Regions from separate parts of the Homo sapiens genome. Here region 1 is linked to region 2. The links come from fine-mapping of genetic effects on gene expression. A gene starts in region 2. The other region holds a variant in brackets. All regions are shown on one strand. Distances are between the middles of the regions.

Region 1 (8,933 bases), 35 kb after region 2:
TGAAAGATTCAAGTAACCAGAACAAAACAAGTCCCCTTCACCATCGCCTCCCACACCCACACCCAGCTCCGGGAGGTAACAACATCAACAAACAGATGGCTTCCCTCCAGTTCCTTTCAACGCCTTCATGCTCACATGTAGTCCTTTATGTAGGTTGGATCCTATTATACATTCTGTTCTGTGCCCTCCCTTTTTTACCTAACAATATCTCGGAGATCTATCTACCTTATTCTTGTTTAACAACCACAGAGGTTTTCAGAGTAGGGAAAGATCATATTCTATTTAACCACTCAACTTCTCTGAAGGATTTGGGCTGTTCATAAATTTTCACAACGTTACGGTGAACGTCACAGGACTTACATGCAGCCGCATGTGCAAGGATTTCTGTAGTGCAGACTTCTGGAAAGGTGGAATTGATGGAGCATAGAGTAAGTACATTTAAAATTCTGATAGGGGGCCGGGCGCGGTGGCTCATGCCTATAATGCCAGCACTTTGGGAGGCAGAGATGGAGGACTGCTAGAGTTCGAGACCAGTCTGGGCAACATAGCAAGACCCACATCTCTTAAAATTCTGATAGGGACTACCAAATTTTCTGCCCAAAGTCTGCCTTTTTCTAAAAACAAAAAGTATATTTAATGACAAAAGTAACATTCCTGTAAACATGTAATGAATACAAACAAGACCAGAAAATAAGTTTTAAAACACCCAGAATTTCATTACCTAGAAGTGGCGATATTAACATACATAGTCAATTTGAGTCATTTTACCATGCATATAGGTAGAGATAAATTTTTAATGAAAATGTGGTCAGAACGTAGACTCTTTAGTAACCTGCCTTTTGCAGTTAACTATATGCAACAAAGCTCTTTCCAAGTCATTAAAGATTCTTGGATTTTGTTTTGTTTTGTAAAGATGGGCTCTCACTAGGTTGACCAGGTTGGTCTTGAACTCCTGGCCTCAAGCAGTCCTCCCATCTCAGCCTCCCAAAAAGCTGGGATTACAGGCATGAGCCACTGCACCTGGCCTAAAGATACATCTATGGTGACATTCCAGATTCTTAACATCATTTAGGGACAAGAAAAGGGAAGCTTATGTGGAAGGAAGGAAGGTAAAAAATTTTTTTAAGACTATGCTAAAAGCAGCATTGACAATTCCTAACTTTGCTTATGTAGGAAAATTATTCTACAACCCTGGTTCCTGGAGGTCTTTGAGAATCTGATAAAGCTGAGGCGGGTGCATCACATGAGGCCAGGAGTTCGAGACCAGCCTGGCCAACATGGTGAAACCTCATCTGTACTAAAAATACAAAAATTAGCTGGGCGTGGTGGCAGGCACCTGTAATCCCAGCTACTCAGGAGGCTGAGGCAGGAAAATTGCTTGAACCCGGAGGCAGAAGTTGCAGTGAGCTGGGATTGCGCCCCTGCACTCCAGCCTGGGCAACAGAGCAAAACTCTCTCGAAAATAAAAAGAGTATGGGCTCTTGATTCAGACACAAGAAACACAACTTTGAATCCTGGCTTTACTACATACTCTTCAAACCCTCCGCCTGTTTCTTCACTTGTAAAATACAGACGATAATCAGCAGGTTCTAGGGTTGCTGTGAAGTTTAAATAAGTTCATACACATAAAATGTTTGCAACAAGGTCTACACACAGTAAGTGGTAATTAAATGCCAGCTCTCATTATTTCCAGTGTTTTGCCCTTGTGACATTTCTAACCATATCTTTGTGCACATCTGTGATTACTTCCAAAGGATAAATTCCTAGATGTAGAATAGCTGGGTGGAATCATGAGCATGTTTATGAGATTTGGTTTTGGTTTTTTTTTTGTTTGTTTGTTTGAGACAGAGTCTCACTCTGTTGCCCAGGCTGGAGTGCAGTGGCGCAATCTCAGCTCACTGCAACCTCTGCCTCCTGGGTTCAAGTGATTCTCCTGCCTCAGCCTCCTGAGTAGCTGGGATTACAGGCATGCGCCACCATGCCCCACTATTTTTTTTTTTTTTTTGTATTTAGTAGAAACGGGGTTTCACCATGTTGGCCAGGCTGGTCTCGAATCCCTGACCTCAAATGATCCACCCGCCTCGGCCTCCCAAAGTTCTGGGATTATAGACGTGAGCCACTGAGCCTGGCCATGTTTATAAGATTTTGGATACATGATGCAAAACTCTTCTCTAAAGCCTCAGATTCAATGATGGTTCTAGGACTGGTTAACAGTGGTAAAGAAAATGCACAAAAATCCTTGCCCTCCTGGAGTTTCCATTAGAAAGGGAGTAGACAGTCAAACTGAAAATGTGATCTATTGGGAGGTGACAAGTGCTATGGAGGAAAATAAAGCAGGGCTGGGCTTAGGAGGGCTGAGACAGGGTGGGGGCTGCAGTTCTACAGAGGGTGGTCGGGGGGCTTCCCTGAGAAGGTGACATTGGAGCACAAAGACTTGAAGGAGGGAGGGAAACATGCAGACGCCTGAGGGGAGAGTGTTCCAGGCAGAGGGAATAGCATGTGCAAAGGTCCTGAGGCAGGAACTTGCCTGAGTGGAGGGGGGAGGATGGGAGGAGAAGAGGATAGAGCAGCGAAGGGGTGGGACATGTCATGGAGGGCCTGGTGGGTTGAATCGAGCTACACTTTTTTTGTTTGTTTGAGACAGAGTGTTGCTGTGTTGCCCAGGCTCGAGCGCACTGGCACGATCTCGGCTCACTGTAACCTCCATCTTCCAGGTTCAAGCATTTCTGGTGCCTCAGCCTCCCAAGTAGCTGGGACTTAAAGGCATACACCACTAGACATGGCTAATTTTTGTATTTTGGGTAAAGACGGGGTTTCGCCACGTTGGCCAGGCTGGTCTCGAACTCCTGACTTCCAATGATCCACCCGTCTTGGCCTCCCAAAGTGCTGGGAGGGAGCAGTGTTAATTTCATACCACTGTAGCTCTAGGAAGGGTGAAGCAGGCATTCAAAAAGACAATGAGAACTAATCAAAATTGTGTTTTCCTTGTTTCAACTTGTGCTTAAAAGCACTAAAAGGAAGTGACGACTCTCATTGTTTCCCAAGAAAATCAGAGGTTCCTTGTTTTCTCAGTAAAACATGCGAATATTTCAGATACTCAAATCCAGATACTTTTTTCCTAAAACACTAAGAACCAAGAGTAAAATGAAAAGACACACACCTGTTTTGTTTGTTACTGGGTGGTGTTCTCAGAAAAACCATCTGCCAGGCATGCAACCCGAGGCAGTGTCTATCAGGGGAATGTAGGGCTGAGATCACAGTGCCCATGATAGAGGGTACCCGTGCCCAAGGCCTCATCCCTCCTCTTCCTGCCACACGTCCCACCACAAAGCCTCAGTCTCAGAGACACATGCAGAGGGCAGAAAGGCCAGCTCGGAGATTACAGTTCAGGGTGAGGAAGTAGCAAACCACAGGTTCATCTGGCGGACCACTGTGGCTGAAATAAGTGAGCTAGAATTTCCACGCACTTCCCCAAACAGCAGAATCTGTGCCTTGAAGAAACTAGGAAGTTCCAGGGACTTGGGAAGGACCAGAGTTTGACCTGAAATGGTTATAAATGAGGGGAGGGCCAGGTAAGGTGGCTCACACCTGTAATTCCAGCACTTTGGGAGGCTGAGGAGGGTGGGTCACTTGAGGTCAGGAATTGGAGACCAGCCTGGCTAATGGCAAAACCCCGTTTCTACTAAAAATATAAAATTTAGCCGGGTTTGGTGGCAGGTGCCTGTAATCCCAGCTACTTGGGAGGCTGAGGCAGAAGAATTGCTTGACTCTGAGAACTGGAGGTTTCAGTGAGCCAAGACCACACCACTGCACTCCAGCCTGGGCAACAGAATGAGACTCTGTCTCAAAAAAAAAAAAAAAAAAAAAAAGAAAAAAAAGAAAGGAAGCAAATATTGGTATAGTATGAAGGCTGGGGTTGTGGTCCCAGCTACTCGGGATGCTGAGGTGGGAAGATCGCTTGAGCCTGGAAGGATGAGGCTGCAGTGAGCTATGATGGCACCACTGCTGTCCAGCCTGGATAACAGAACGAGACCGTTTCTCAAAAAAAAAAAAGAAAAGAAAAGAAAAAATTGAGGCTGGTAAATGTGCCTGATGGCTTAGGGGGTCAAAAATGCGCCCTGGCTTGATGAAGTGGCTTCTCCACTATTACCAGCATTTCCATCTGTTGCTTTGCTTGTCAACAATATGTCACTGATCACCTACTGTGCACAGGCACAGGGCCAGGTGCCCAAAGAGAGGACAGAAAGAAATATATCTGGAGGAGCTGCCAGTTCCTGCAGGGGACGGAGGG[A/G]CACTCTGAACCACAAGAGCCTTGGCAAAGTGCCCCTCAAGACTTCCCTTCTCCAAGTTAACACTTATCAGCTTGTTCTTTTTCTCCTCCTTTCCTTTCCCCTTTTCTTTGTCTCCATTCTCTCTCCTTCCTTCCCTCTCTTCTTCTTTCCTTCCTTCTTTCTCTTTTGCAGATTGGTACAGCTTTATCATCAAGAAGTTAGAGTTCACATAATAATTTGTCTTGATAACTGTACCTTAGTTCAATTTCGTTTTTAGCAGAAATAACAAGTGCTTGTTGAAAAGATAAAACCATATGAAAACATCAAAATAAACCTAGCAAATCCTCACTATCTCCATGCCCCACTCTTCCTCTCCTGAGAATCACTATTAACAACTTACCATTTACTTTCCAGGTAAGACTTTTCTCCCCCATGCATACACATATTTCTGTATACAGTTTTTAGAAAGTGAATATGAATTCTTCCTGTTTAACTTACTGGTGTGTTCTCAGCTCCTGGCACATAGTAGGCATTGAAAGCATTTCTTGAACAAATAAATTATGAATTTCTGAAAATTATCTCTTATTCAAAAATACATCATGGGCCGGACACAGTGGCTCAAGCCTGTAATCCCAGCACTTTGGAAAGCTGAGTCAGGTGGATCACTCGAGGTCAGGGGTTCGAAATCAGCCTGGCCAACATGGTGAAACCCCGTCTCTTTCAAAAAATACAAAAATTAGCTGGGTTTGGTGGCATAAGTCTGTAATCCCAGCTGCCCGGGAGGCTGAGGTGGGAGAATCGCTTGAACCCAGGAGGGAGAGGTTGCAGTGAGCCAAGATCACGCCACTGCACTCCAGCCTGGGCAACAGAGTAAGACCCTGTCTCAAAATAAATAAACAAATAAATAATACATCGTGGACATCCTTCCATGTCACCTACCTCCATCTTTTTATGGCTGTGTGATATTCCATAGAATGGCTGCGTCATTATCCAACCAGAACCCTGTTGTCAGATGTTAGGCTGTCTCTGTGTTTTCATTGTTTGAGATGATTGTTCCTACATCCTTGCACACTTGTGTATTCTGTAGGCAAGTGTAGAGGACAGAATAATGGCCTTCCAAAGATGCCCACATGCTAATGCTCAGAACCTGTGAATTTGTTACCTTGCATGACAAGAGACTTGCAGACGTGCTTAAATTAAGGCTCTTGCGGTAGGTGGGGGGAGGTGATCCTGGATTGTGGGGTAAGCCCATTATAATCATAAGGGTCCTTGTAAGAGAGAGGCAAGAGAGTCACAGAGCAGGCCATGTGATGCAGAAGCAGAAGGGAAGAAGGAGATGCAGTGACAGAAGCAGAGGCCAGAGTGATGCCATTGTTGAAAGGACTACAAGCCAAAGGAGGCCTCTAGAAGCTGGAAAAGGCGAGGAAATGAAGTCTTCCCTGTAGCCTCCAGGATTGTGGCCTTGCCAACCCATTGGACTTCTGTCCTCCAGAACTATGAGGTTATGAATTTGTGCTCCTTAGCCTGCCCAGTTCGTTATTGTGATTTGTTATCGCCACAATAAGATGCAAACTGAGCCAGAGACCTAGAAATGAAATTGCTGGCATCTTAGTCTGTTCAGGCTGCTATAAAAAACACCATACCCTGGGTGGCTTATAAAGAGCAGAAATTTACATTTGACAGTTCTAGAGGCTGGGATGTCCAAGATCAAGATGACAATAATTCCTTGTCTGGTGAGGGCTGTTTCCTAGTTCATAGATGGCACTTTCTGGCTGTGTCCTCCCATGGTGGAAGCGGTTAGTTAGCTCTCTGTGACCTCCTCCATGAGGGCTCTGCCTCATCACCTCCCAAAGCACCCCACTTCCTAATACCATCACTTTGGTGATATGAATTTGTCACGACAGCTGGGGGAGATGTAAACCTTCAGACCAAAGCACTGGCTCAAAGACTAAATTCATTTTCTAAATTCATGCACCATCACTCATACACACAGCGGTTTCCATCCCGCTCACTGCCCTCCAGCTGCTGTCTAATATTTCTATGACCTTCTCAAAATGTCAATCCCAGAACGACCTGCCTGTCCACACACTGCTGACCCGTGCATAGTAAGCATTCTGCTGGGTTTGATCAGCATCCTTGGGAACTGCACATTAAGCTGTGCTCATTCAGCTAGAAATGACCTGAGCGCTTCAGTCTTCAGTCACGCCTCTGCTGTCCTATTCTCGTGCCATTGGTTTGTTTTTGACATTGGGGCAGAACTTTACTTTTATCCCTCCTAAATTTCACATTGTCTAAGTAAAATGGGGAGAGATGAGAATCTTCAGTGTCAAATTACTGAGTAGTTCTTTGTTGCCATTTCATTTCCATGAGTTTTTGGAGAATGGAAAGAGCAGGTGGATTTGGCCCTTAAATCTCATAGGGAAAAAGAAAGTGAATAGAAATAACATCATAAATAATAGAGAGGGTAAAAGCCTCCATATCAGAAATGGCTCAACCTCAGGGATTTTAACGCCTAAGAAGTGATATTTATTTTTTATTTTTTATTATTTTTTTGAAACAGGGTCTCACTCTGTCGTCCAGGCTGGAATGCAGTGGCACGATCTTGGCTCACTGCAGCTTCGGCCTCCTGGGCTCAAGTGATCCTCCCACCTTAGCCTCTCAAGTAGCTGGGACTACAGGCACACAGCTAATTTTTGTTGTTGTTGTTGTTGTTGAAACAGGGTTTCACCATGTTGCCCAGGCTGGTCTCAAACTCCTGACCTCAAACGATCCGCCTGCCTCGGCCTCCCAAAGTGCTGGGATTACAGGTGTGAGCCACCGCACCTTGATCAGAAGGGATATTTATACAGGAAAGCTCCATAGGACAGTCCAGCTCAGCAGGGACTGGTTTAATGTTGGGAATTCTATTTTGTCATTAGTTCCAGAGCAGCCAAGCCACCAAAATATCACTTGGATGCTGCCAGCTTCCTCCAGTGCAGGTAGAGGAGGTGTCCTGGGAGCCCACAGGCTGCATTCCCATGAGACAGACGCCCCCATCAGTCCCCTAGGACCCCGCCCAGTATAGGGCAAGCAAGCTCTCAATGGTTGACAGTCCCTTGGGTCTTTATGTCCTGACTAGGAATAGGAGGTCTTACAAAACTGAAACAAGTTAGAATTTGAAGAGGGCTAATTCCATCCCGGCCCCTCCTTTTACAGACAGGAACCGAGGCTGGGTCATCGGCTCCAGAATTTACCAGGCTGTGCATTGTAGAACCTCCTCATGGACGGGCTCTGTGTGCAGGCTTTACTCTGGCCAATGGCAGGTGCGTTACCAGACAGGAACGCTTCTGGACAATGCTCCCCGACTCTTGTGTCAGAAGCACTGGATTCCTTTCCTGTGGCTGTCGTAACAAAACACCACAAACTAGGTGGCTTAAAACAACAGCGATTTATTCTCTCACAGTTCTGGGGGCTAGAAATCCAAAATCAAGGTGTCAGCAGGGCCACGCTCCCTCTGAAGGCTCTAGGGGAGAATCCTTCCTTGCCTCTTCCTAATTTCTGGTGGTTTCCTTGGCCGCAGCTGCGTCAGTCTGATCTCTGCCTCCATCGTCACACACGGTCTTCTGCTGTGTGTCACCGTGCTCTCTTCGTTCTGTGCATGGCTGTCTCTGTGGCCAAATTTTCCCTTTTATAGACACCAGTCATATTGGATTAGAGCCCACCCTAATGAGCTCTTCTTGAATTGATGACATCTGCAAAATTCCTATTCCCAAAATAAAGTCACATTTACTGATATGGGGGTGAGGACTTCAACATATATTTTTTATTATTTATTTATTTATTGAGATGGATTCTCATTCTGTCACCCAGGCTGGAGTGCAGTGGTGTGATCTCAGCTCACTGCAACCTCCACCCCCCAGGTTCAAGCAATTCTCCAGCCTCAGCCTCCCGAGTAGCTGGGGCTACAGGCATGCGCCATTGTGCCTGGCTAATTTTTGTATTTTTAGTTGAGACAGCGTTTCACCATGTTGGCCAGGTTGGTCTTGAACTCCTGACCTCAGGTGATCCACCCACCTCAGCCTCCCAAAGTGCTGATATTACAGGCATGAGCCACCACACCAGGACTTCAACATATATTTTAGAGATGCAGTTCAACTCATAACAAGCACCTTCTACCAGGAGACAGAATGAAGCTGGTAACAAAGGCCCAGAGACACTGGTTCCTTTAGCCAGAGCCTGGTGATACTGCGGAGTACCTCGACAGGCAACCCTGAAACTAGTATCCCTGGGCCAGATGTTTAATGGGCATGTAAGAGGCTGTCCCTGAGTCAGAGCTTGCAGAAGGAGGGGCTGGTACAAGGTCCAGCCTCTCCTCAACTGTCCTGAGCCCCTAACTCAGCAAAACAGAAGCCCTGGCGTTCTTCAGCCACCTGCCATAGGGTCCAGCAAGCAATTGTCATGACTACTTACTCACATCCTTGCCATCTTTCCTCCCTCACTCCAAGAGGCTCACCAAAGCACCCCTCCCTACCCCACACACGGCTTTCCCTGAGAAGAGCTCTGATTAATTCATATGGTTGCCTCCTTCTCATGGCATTTCCAATATGTCATGGTGCCCCTTACTGACTGGCCTCCCAGGCAGCTCTCGGGCTTGCAGCTCTCAGCCTTGGGGAACGAGGCTGC
Region 2 (8,933 bases):
ACAGACAATAAACAAGATAAAAGGACGGGCAAGGTGGCTCACACCTGTAATGCCAGCACTTTGGGAGGCCGAGGTGGGCAGATCACTTGAGGTCAGGAGTTCGAGACCAGCCTGGCCAACATGGTGAAACCCCGTCTCTACTAAAAATACAAGTTAGCGGGGCTTGGTGGCTGATGCCTGTAATCCCAGCTACTCGGGAAGCTGAGGCAGGAGAATCACTTGAACCCTGGAGGTGGAGGTTGCAGTGAGCAGAGATTGTGCCATTGCACTCCAGCCTGGGCAACAAGAGAGAAACTCCTTCTCAAAAGAAAAATAATAAAGTAAAATAAACAAGATAAGTAAAATATATAGTTAGAGACTGATCAGTACTGAAGGGAAAACGGGGTGTCTTAGTCCATTCTGTGCTGCTGTAACAGAATAGCTGAGACTGGGTAATTTCTAAAGAACAGAAATTTATTCTCTTATAATTCTGGAGGCTGGGAAGTCCAAGATCAAGGCACCAGCGTCTGATGAGGGCCTTCTTGCTGTCCTCACATGGTGGAAGTCAGAAGGGCCAATGGGACAAATTCTGTGTCCTCACATGGCATGTGTAGAGAGAGAACCCACTCCTCCAATCCCTTTCTATAATGGCATTAATCCATTCTTGAGGGTAGAGCCCTCATGATCTAAACACCTCCCATTAGGACTCACATCCCAACATTATTGTATTGGGGATTAAGTTTCCAATGCATGAATTTTGGGGGATACAGTCAAACCATAGCAGGGGATATCAAGTGTGTGAGTCATTAAAATTGTTGTTAAATAGTTAAAATTTTAGATAGGGCGGCCAGGGAAGACCTCATCGAGACAGTGACTTTTAAGTAAAGACCTGAAAGGGACAAGCCATGTGGAAATCCAAGAGAAACACAATTCAGGTAGTGGAACAAACAAGGCAAAGCACTGAGGACCGAGTGTGTCTGGGATGCTTAAGGAACAATAGGGAGGTCATGGGCAGAAGCAAGAAGACTAGAGAGCTAATGCAAAAATCCAAGCAAGAGATGATGGTGGCTTAAACCAGAATGATGAGAAATGGTCAGATTCTAGAAATATGAATGTTAAGTCAACATTTGCTGATGGGCCATTTAGCTGATGGGCCATTACAAAGTGTAAGGGTTAGGGGAGGAGATCAAGGAAAACCCCCAAATTTTGACCTGACCAAGCAACTGGAAGGATGGCGCCCAATACATTTCTTTTTTCTTTCTTTTTCTTTCAATGAACCATGTGTACAGTTTTTCATATTTCTTCTTTTTCTCCCCACCCCCAGATTTGCATTTCTGTCACTTGCACCACAACCTCCCCACTCAATGAAAGAAATTTAGAAAGCACTGGTATTCAAAAGAACAGACGTAAAACTGCTTGAGGTTTTGCTCATCTAAAGCCTGTGTGTTCTTTGGAGGCTATGACTTTTGAGGGCAAGTCATAAAAGCTAAAGAGGCCCCTGCCCTGTTCACCAAAACACTTGTTCTAAGTTCTAAAACACTGTAGTTCTATGATTCTGAAATCTTGAAAGGATTACAATGAAAAAAATACTCTGTTTTCAAGAATCCAGCAGACACTTTTCAGAATACTAAATTTTGTATATTGTAAATATACCAAATATACTGTGAATATTATCAGTATAATGCAATTCTGTTCAGCATAATACTGGTACATTGATTGGTTGGCTGGGTGCCAAGGAACACAGCTTTCTCAGGGAACAGAAATACTCCTGGTTCTTAGGATTTAAGCTATTAACACATATCTATGCTTGAAAACCACATGCCACTTTTGTTAAATGAATTGATGCAGTTCAGCATCATAAGCTCAAACATTCACTAATTTCACCTTTTTCTGATTTATTCACTTGTTTATTAGTTCAAGGAGAGGACAGTTTAAATAGAACAATATATACACAATGATAGTTTCATGATGAGCCAAGACATTAAGTAAGACAAACAAGGCAATCTGATTTTATGTTAAACATTGGCCTGTTACTGTATTATTAAAATAATAGTGGTATTTGAGTTTGGAGCCAGTATTGTGGTCTCTGTACAAAAATAATGCCTTTCTTTGGCATCAATAAATCAGTATGCATCTATCTTAATTATATCAGCATAAAAAATAGCTTACTCTCCTTGGCAGTAAATAACATTGCCTTCAATTAGCCAAATTATATTTCTGTCTCAAACTACATCCAGTACCATATATTCCATGTCATCAGAGAAATTCTAAATTATCACTGCAGATTGTGTTTATTTTTACATTGGACTGTATCACAAACTGAACATTTAAAATATGAAAAAGGAAAAAACCTTCATATAACTGCCTCTCAGTGTGCCTCCTCTCTAAAGCTTCTAGGCTGCTTTCTCCACTGGGCTGCAGACCTTCCTGTCTAGTAGCTCTTGGACACCATGTGTCCCAAACTGAACTCATCCCTTCCCTCCAGCTGCCCCTATTCCTGTGTTCTGTGTATCTATTCATGACATGTCCATCCACCTGGTCAGCCACGTTCAAAACTTGAATCTTTTGACTACTCACTATACTTCACTTCCTATATCCAATTGGTTGCCAAATACTGCCCACTGAACAGCTTCCAAGCATCTAATCTCTCTCTTCTTTATCTACTGCTGGAATTCTCTTCCTGAAGCCCAGATTTATGTTATTATTTGCCTTACATTTTCCTCCCATTTTCTATGGAATGGCCTAACTCCTTAGAATGGTACCAAGATTTTCCACAGTTTGGCCATTCCTTTCCACCCCACTGCACCTTGTTTTCATTGTCCTCAGAATTTCATTTATAAAGGTGACTGGGTGATGACAATCAATGAGTTAGTGGCCAATGCCTTTGAAAATTTTATTATAGTTCTCAAGAGAAGGGGCTGTGCCTACGGCCACACGAGAAAGTATTAGGGTCAATGAGGAGGTAGAGAGAGCGAGGAGAAAGCCCAGAGCCTTTATTGCCGTGGGAAGGAATGGGCGAAGCAGGGAAGGGAAGTCTGAACAAGCTTAGGATTGAATAATTTGAATAATGTTGGCAAGCTCTGGGATATAGAGGTGAATTTTAGTTGTCTGGTACTTGGCCATGGGGTGGTTTATTACAGTGACTTGGGGCAGGGAAAATATTGGTGTGTGAGATGGATAAAGATGGTGTGGGGATATAGGCTTGGGTTGGTTGGTTTGTAAATGAAAGGGGTGTTCACAAGCAAGTTGTTTGCTATCTCTAGGAATTAGCTAACTCTGAAAGGGGCAATTCCTCCCCAGGTCCCCAAGGCCCCAAGATGTCAAAGCATCATAAAATACAGAAAACAGAAACTAAAATCCATGGTTAATACACACCTCCCTTCACACACACCCTTTACTCCCGGCTCCAGTAGCCCCAGAAATGCTCTAGACGAAGTAAGTTCTGTAGTGCATCTCTCAACAATATGCCGCCACCCATAGCCCTGGCTGAGGAGAGCCACCAAACCTGGTACTATGCGACCATGGTCCTTCCCCTGGTCACTGGATAGTGATCGCACCCAACACAGGCACCCCCATCTACAGGGTGGCTGGAGATCTATGACCATTGTGGCGTACCTGGACCAATCAATAAACTGGACCAATTGGATTTCCATTTTTAGGGATTTAAATTCAGAGCCACAAAAGGAGATTGTCAGTTGATGATGAGCTAAGACACCCTGAAGTATACTCACAACCTTAGCAAGCCATGTGCAGTCTAGTGCTCCACCCCTCTACCCACCCCGTCCAACCCCCACCAAAATACTAACAAAATACAACACACTAGTTCATCATCTAGACCATAATAACTCGCTGGGGATAGTGCTGGAAGTTTTTGTTTGTTTAACATTTCTTTCAAATACTAAGATTAACGGAGTTGCATAGTGAAAAAAACTGTAGGAAAGGGTCGGACTTAGGCCTGGAGTGAAGGGCACAAGATGCTTTTATTTTAAACCCCTAAAAGTGTTGCAAAGTGTTTTTAATTTCATATAAATAGTTAAGGATCACATGAACACAATCCAGTACAAATGGGTCCAGGAGCTTCAACGAGCGTTCCAGCTTCTTCGTAACGTTCCCACACCGTGCAGCAAGCGGAGGGAAGAGAACTTCCGGCGCCCCCACCTACCGCTCCCCAGCCGTGTCCCGCTGCTCTAAATCTGCAGACTTGATCGATTGCTTCTGCCTGGGCGGTACCGCCCGAATTGACTGCTCCTGTCTGATGCGTCCCCGGGCGCGGGAAACGAGTTTCAATCCACTTTCCTGACCCCAACCATCCTGCCCAGTCTCCGCTTCCCCGTCTTGTACACCCCTAACTCCTGAGGCTCCTCCGAATCACGCGAGTGGAAGCGGAGAAGCTCAAGTGGCCGCCATGTCAGAGGCTTATTTCCGAGTGGAGTCGGGTGCGCTGGGGCCTGAGGAGAACTTTCTTTCTTTGGACGACATCCTGATGTCCCACGAGAAGCTGCCGGTGCGCACGGAGACCGCCATGCCTCGCCTTGGCGCTTTCTTCCTGGAGCGGAGCGCAGGCGCCGAGACTGACAACGCGGTCCCACAGGTGAGCCTTTGGGTGCGGGGTCCTGCCCGGAAAGACTGCAGCTCCCGGCGGGCCCCTCGGCCCTGGGACGCCGCATCGGGGCGCGCTGCCCTTTGGGATTTGTAGTTTTCGAGGAGCCAGGGCCGAAGGCGCTAACGACTTCTCGGAAACTCCGCGGGGGTCCCTTCGCGCTCGGGGTGGTCTCCAGACTTCTTGTTCGCCATCTGTGGTGAAACTACATTTATCCTAGGTCGCCAGGCAGCCTCCAACATTGATTTCTTTTTTGAAACTGTCCAAATTAGTGTCTTCCCCCTACCCCATGCAACGTGTGTTGAATGCTTAAAGATTGGCTCCAGCTGAATACTTAAGAATTAGAGTTCTGATCATGTTTGCCTTAAAACAGCTTTGGGTTCTGTAAGAGCATGTGATAAGTAGGAACCCCAAGTTGCTAAATTCATTCCTCCATAATGATGACAGGATCAGTAAGCCCTACTGAGGCTTACTTAGTGGCAGCATGGTTGGGTGTGGGGAGTAAGCTTTTCCCTTTAATCCTTCAGCAACCAGAAAGGCTGGGTCACTTGGCCAGGGCTTCAGTTAGTGGTGAGCTGGGATTCGGAACCCAAGGCCATATGGCTTCAAATATAAAATTGTCCCAGGAACATGGCTTGTAATGATTAATTTGGATATCCTGTTTCACCTAAGTTTTGTATAGAACGATGTTTATTGTTTGGTCTGTTTGTTTCAAGTTAATTTTTATCAAAGTAATACATAACCAACGTTTTAAAAGTCAAATAGGCCGGATGCGGTGGCTCACGCCTGTAATCCCAGCACTTTGGGAGGCTGAGGCGGGCGGATCACGAGGTCAAGAGATCCAGACCATCCTGGCCAACATGGTGAAACCCCATCTCTACTAGAAAGCTGGGTGTGGTGGCCGGCGCCTGTAATCTCAGCTACTCTGGAGGCTGAGGCAGGAGAATTTCTTGAACCCAGGAGGCAGAGGTTGCAGTGAGCCGAGACTGTGCCACTGCACTCCAGCCTGGCGACAGAGTGAGACTCCATCTCAAAAAAAAAAAAAAAAAAAGTCAAATAGTACCAAAAGATTTATAAGAAAAAAAATAGCAGGTCCTGCCTTCCTTTTCCCACTTCCCCCTCCAAGTCCACAGGGCTCATGTACCTTTTTTAGTGGTGTCTTCAAGATTCATCTTCATATTTCTAAATAATATTCTTAAACTTACCTTGTTGGGTTGTTTTTTTTAATGTAGACATTATCTGTTGACTTCATCCTAGCAGATGAGGATTTCGTTCCCATACACACTGGTAAACATGGCGCTATGCTGCCCATACTTAATTCATATTTCCTTAGTTTTTAGTTAATGCCCTTTTTCTATTCTAGGATTCCACCTAGGATACCACACTGCATTTAGTAGACATGTTTCCTTAGCCTTCTCTTGGTTGTGACAATTAATCAGACCTCCTTGTTCTAATGACCTCGACGGTTTTGTGGAGTGGTGGTCAGGTATTTTGTAAAATGTTCCTCAGTTGGAAATCTTTGGTTTGGGGGTAGTTTTGTTTTTGGTTTTGTTTTTTTGTTTGTTTTTTTGACACGGAGTTACCCTGTCATCTAGGCCAGAGTGCAGTGGCATAATCTCAGCTCACTGCAGCCTCCTCCACCTCCTGGGTTCAAGCAATTCTGCCTCAGCCTCCCAAGTAGCTGAGATTACAGGCGCCCACCACCACACCCAGCCAATTTTTGTATTTTTAGTAGAGATGAGGTTTCACCAGGTTGGCCAGGCTGGTCTGGAACTCCTGACTTCAAGTGATCCACCCAACTCAGCCTCCCAAAGTACTGGGATTACAGGCGTAAGCCACCTCGCCCAGCCTTCTTTGTTTTTGTTTTTTATTCTTTTTTTCTCAGCATTAGACTTGATTATCAGCTTTAGGGAGGAAGACCACAGAGGTAAAGTGCCATTTTCATCACATATTAAGGGTGCCTACTATCAACAGGACTTTGTACTGTTCATTTGAACCTTGGCAGAGGTAATGTTCATTAGGTTTCTCCACCTTTTCATACTGTACTCTTTGGATGGAAGTCATTATCACTGTCACACTGAAGGAGTAGGGAGTTATGTTCCACTTCTTTGAGTGCAGAGTGTCTACATTAAATCTTTAGAATCCTTCTGCATGGGAGATTTGTGTAGGAAGGTTTGTATGACATTTAATTTCATTTATAGGATTATTCAGACTTGATTTCTTCTTGTGTTAGTTTTGGTATATTTGGTTTTTAACTAAAACTTTGACCATTTTATCTAATTTTTTTTTTTTTTTTTTGAGACAGGGTTTTGCTCTGTTGCCCAGGCTGGAGTGCAGTGGTGTGATATGGCTCACTGCAGCCTTGACCTCCCAGGCTCCAGAGATCCTCCCACCTCAGCCACCTATGTGGCTGGTATTGCAGGTACATGCCACCATGTCCAGCTAATTTTTGTATTTTTTTTTTGTCTAAATTTTCTTTTTTTTTTTTTTCTATTTGTACATTTGAAATTCTTCTGTAATATTTGTATATATATATATATATTTTTTTTTTAATTGATCATTCTTGGGTGTTTCTCGCAAAGGGGGATTTGGCAGGGTCACAGGACAATAGTGGAGGGAAGGTCAAGCAGATAAACAAGTGAACAAAGGTCTCTGGTTTTCCTAGGCAGAGGACCCTGCGGCCTTCCGCAGTGTTTGTGTCCCTGGGTACTTGAGATTAGGGAGTGGTGATGACTCTTAACGAGCATGCTGCCTTCAAGCATCTGTTTAACAAAGCACATCTTGCACCACCCTTAATCCATTCAACCCCTGAGTGGACACAGCATATGTTTCAGAGAGCACAGGGTTGGGGGTAAGGTCACAGATCAACAGGATCCCAAGGCAGAAGAATTTTTCTTAGTACAGAACAAAATGAAAAGTCTCCCACGTCTACTTGTTTCTACACAGACACAGCAACCATCCGATTTCTCAATCTTTTCCCCACCTTTCCCCCCTTTCTATTCCACAAAGCCGCCATTGTCATCCTGGCCCGTTCTCAATGAGCTGTTGAGTACACCTCCCAGACGGGGTGGTGGCCGGGCAGAGGGGCTCCTCACTTCCCAGTAGGGGCGGCCGGGCAGAGGTGCCCCTCACCTCCCGGACGGGGCGGCTGGCTGGGCGGGGGGCTGGCCCCCCCACCTCCCTCCCGGACAGGGCGGCTGGCTGGGCAGAGGGGCTCCTCACTTTCCAGTAGGGGCGGCCGGGCAGAGGCGCCCCTCACCTCCCGGACGGGGCGGCTGGCCGGGCGGGGGGCTGACTCCCCCACCTCCCTCCCGGACGGGGCGGCTGGCTGGGTGGGGGGCTGACCCCCCCACCTCCCTCTTGGACGGGGCGGCTGGCCGGGCAGAGGGGCTCCTCACTTACCAGTAGGGGCGGCCGGGCAGAGGCGCCCCTCACCTCCCAGACGGGGCGGCTGGCCGGGTGGGGGGCTGACTCCCCCACCTCCCTCCCGGACGGGGCGGCTGGCCGGGCAGAGGGGCTCCTCACTTACCAGTAGGGGCGGCCGGGCAGAGGCGCCCCTCACCTCCCGGATGGGGCGGCTGGCCGGGCAGGGGGCTGACCCCCCCACCTCCCTCCCGGACGGGGCGGCTGGCTGGGCAGAGGGGCTCCTCACTTCCCAGTAGGGGCGGCCGGGCAGAGGCGCCCCTCACCTCCCGGACGGGGAGGCTGGCCGGGCGGGGGCTGACCCCCCCACCTCCCTCCCGGACGGGGCGGCTGGTCGGGCGGGGGCTGATCCCCCCCACCTCCCTCCCGGACGGGGCGGCTGGCCGGGCGGGGGGCTGATCCCCCCACCTCCCTTCCCGGACGGGGCGGCTGGCCGGGCGGTGGGCTGACCCCCCGACCTCCCTCCCGGACGGGGCGGCTGGCCGGGCGGGGGGCTGACCTCCCCACCTCCCTCCCGGACGGGGCGGCTGGCCGGGCGGGGGGCTGACCCCCCCACCTCCTTCCCGGACAGGGCGGCTGGCCGGGCAGAGGGGCTCCTCACTTCCCAGTAGGGGCGGCCGGGCAGAGGCGCCCCTCACCTCCCGGACGGGGCGGCTGGCCGGGCGGGGGGCTGACCCCCCCACCTCCTTCCCGGACGGGGCGGCTGGCCGGGCAGAGGTGCTCCTCACATCCCAGTAGGGGTGGCCGGGCAGAGGCGCCCCTCACCTCCAGGAGAGGGCGGCTGGCTGGGCGGGGGGCTGACCCCCCCACCTCCCTTCCGGACAGGGCGGCTGGCCGGGCGGGGGGCTGACCCCCACCTCCCTCCTGGATGGGGTGGCTGCCGGGCGGAGACGCTCCTCACTTCCCAGACGGTGTAGCTGCCGGGCGGAGG

What was found. PIP is the estimated chance that this variant, and not a neighbour inherited with it, causes the effect.
Region 1: its variant is fine-mapped to the expression of GINS3 in skeletal muscle (GTEx, PIP 0.94).

The regions. Positions count from the first base shown.
Region 1 is chr16:58,422,921-58,431,853 of GRCh38, forward strand. All of the region lies in intron 1 of LINC02137 (long intergenic non-protein coding RNA 2137), which reads left to right. Among named protein-coding and RNA genes, the nearest start is that of LINC02137, 6.1 kb to the left of the region's middle. RefSeq lists silencers at 3,265-3,364, 3,435-3,514. The variant A/G (reference allele first, on the strand shown) is at 4,292.
Region 2 is chr16:58,388,218-58,397,150 of GRCh38, forward strand. It overlaps GINS3 (GINS complex subunit 3), which reads left to right and starts at 4,254. Exons shown (of 3, transcript NM_022770.4): 1 at 4,254-4,570. The coding sequence starts at 4,385. RefSeq lists enhancers at 3,893-4,470, 4,077-4,566, 4,471-5,047, 7,076-7,721.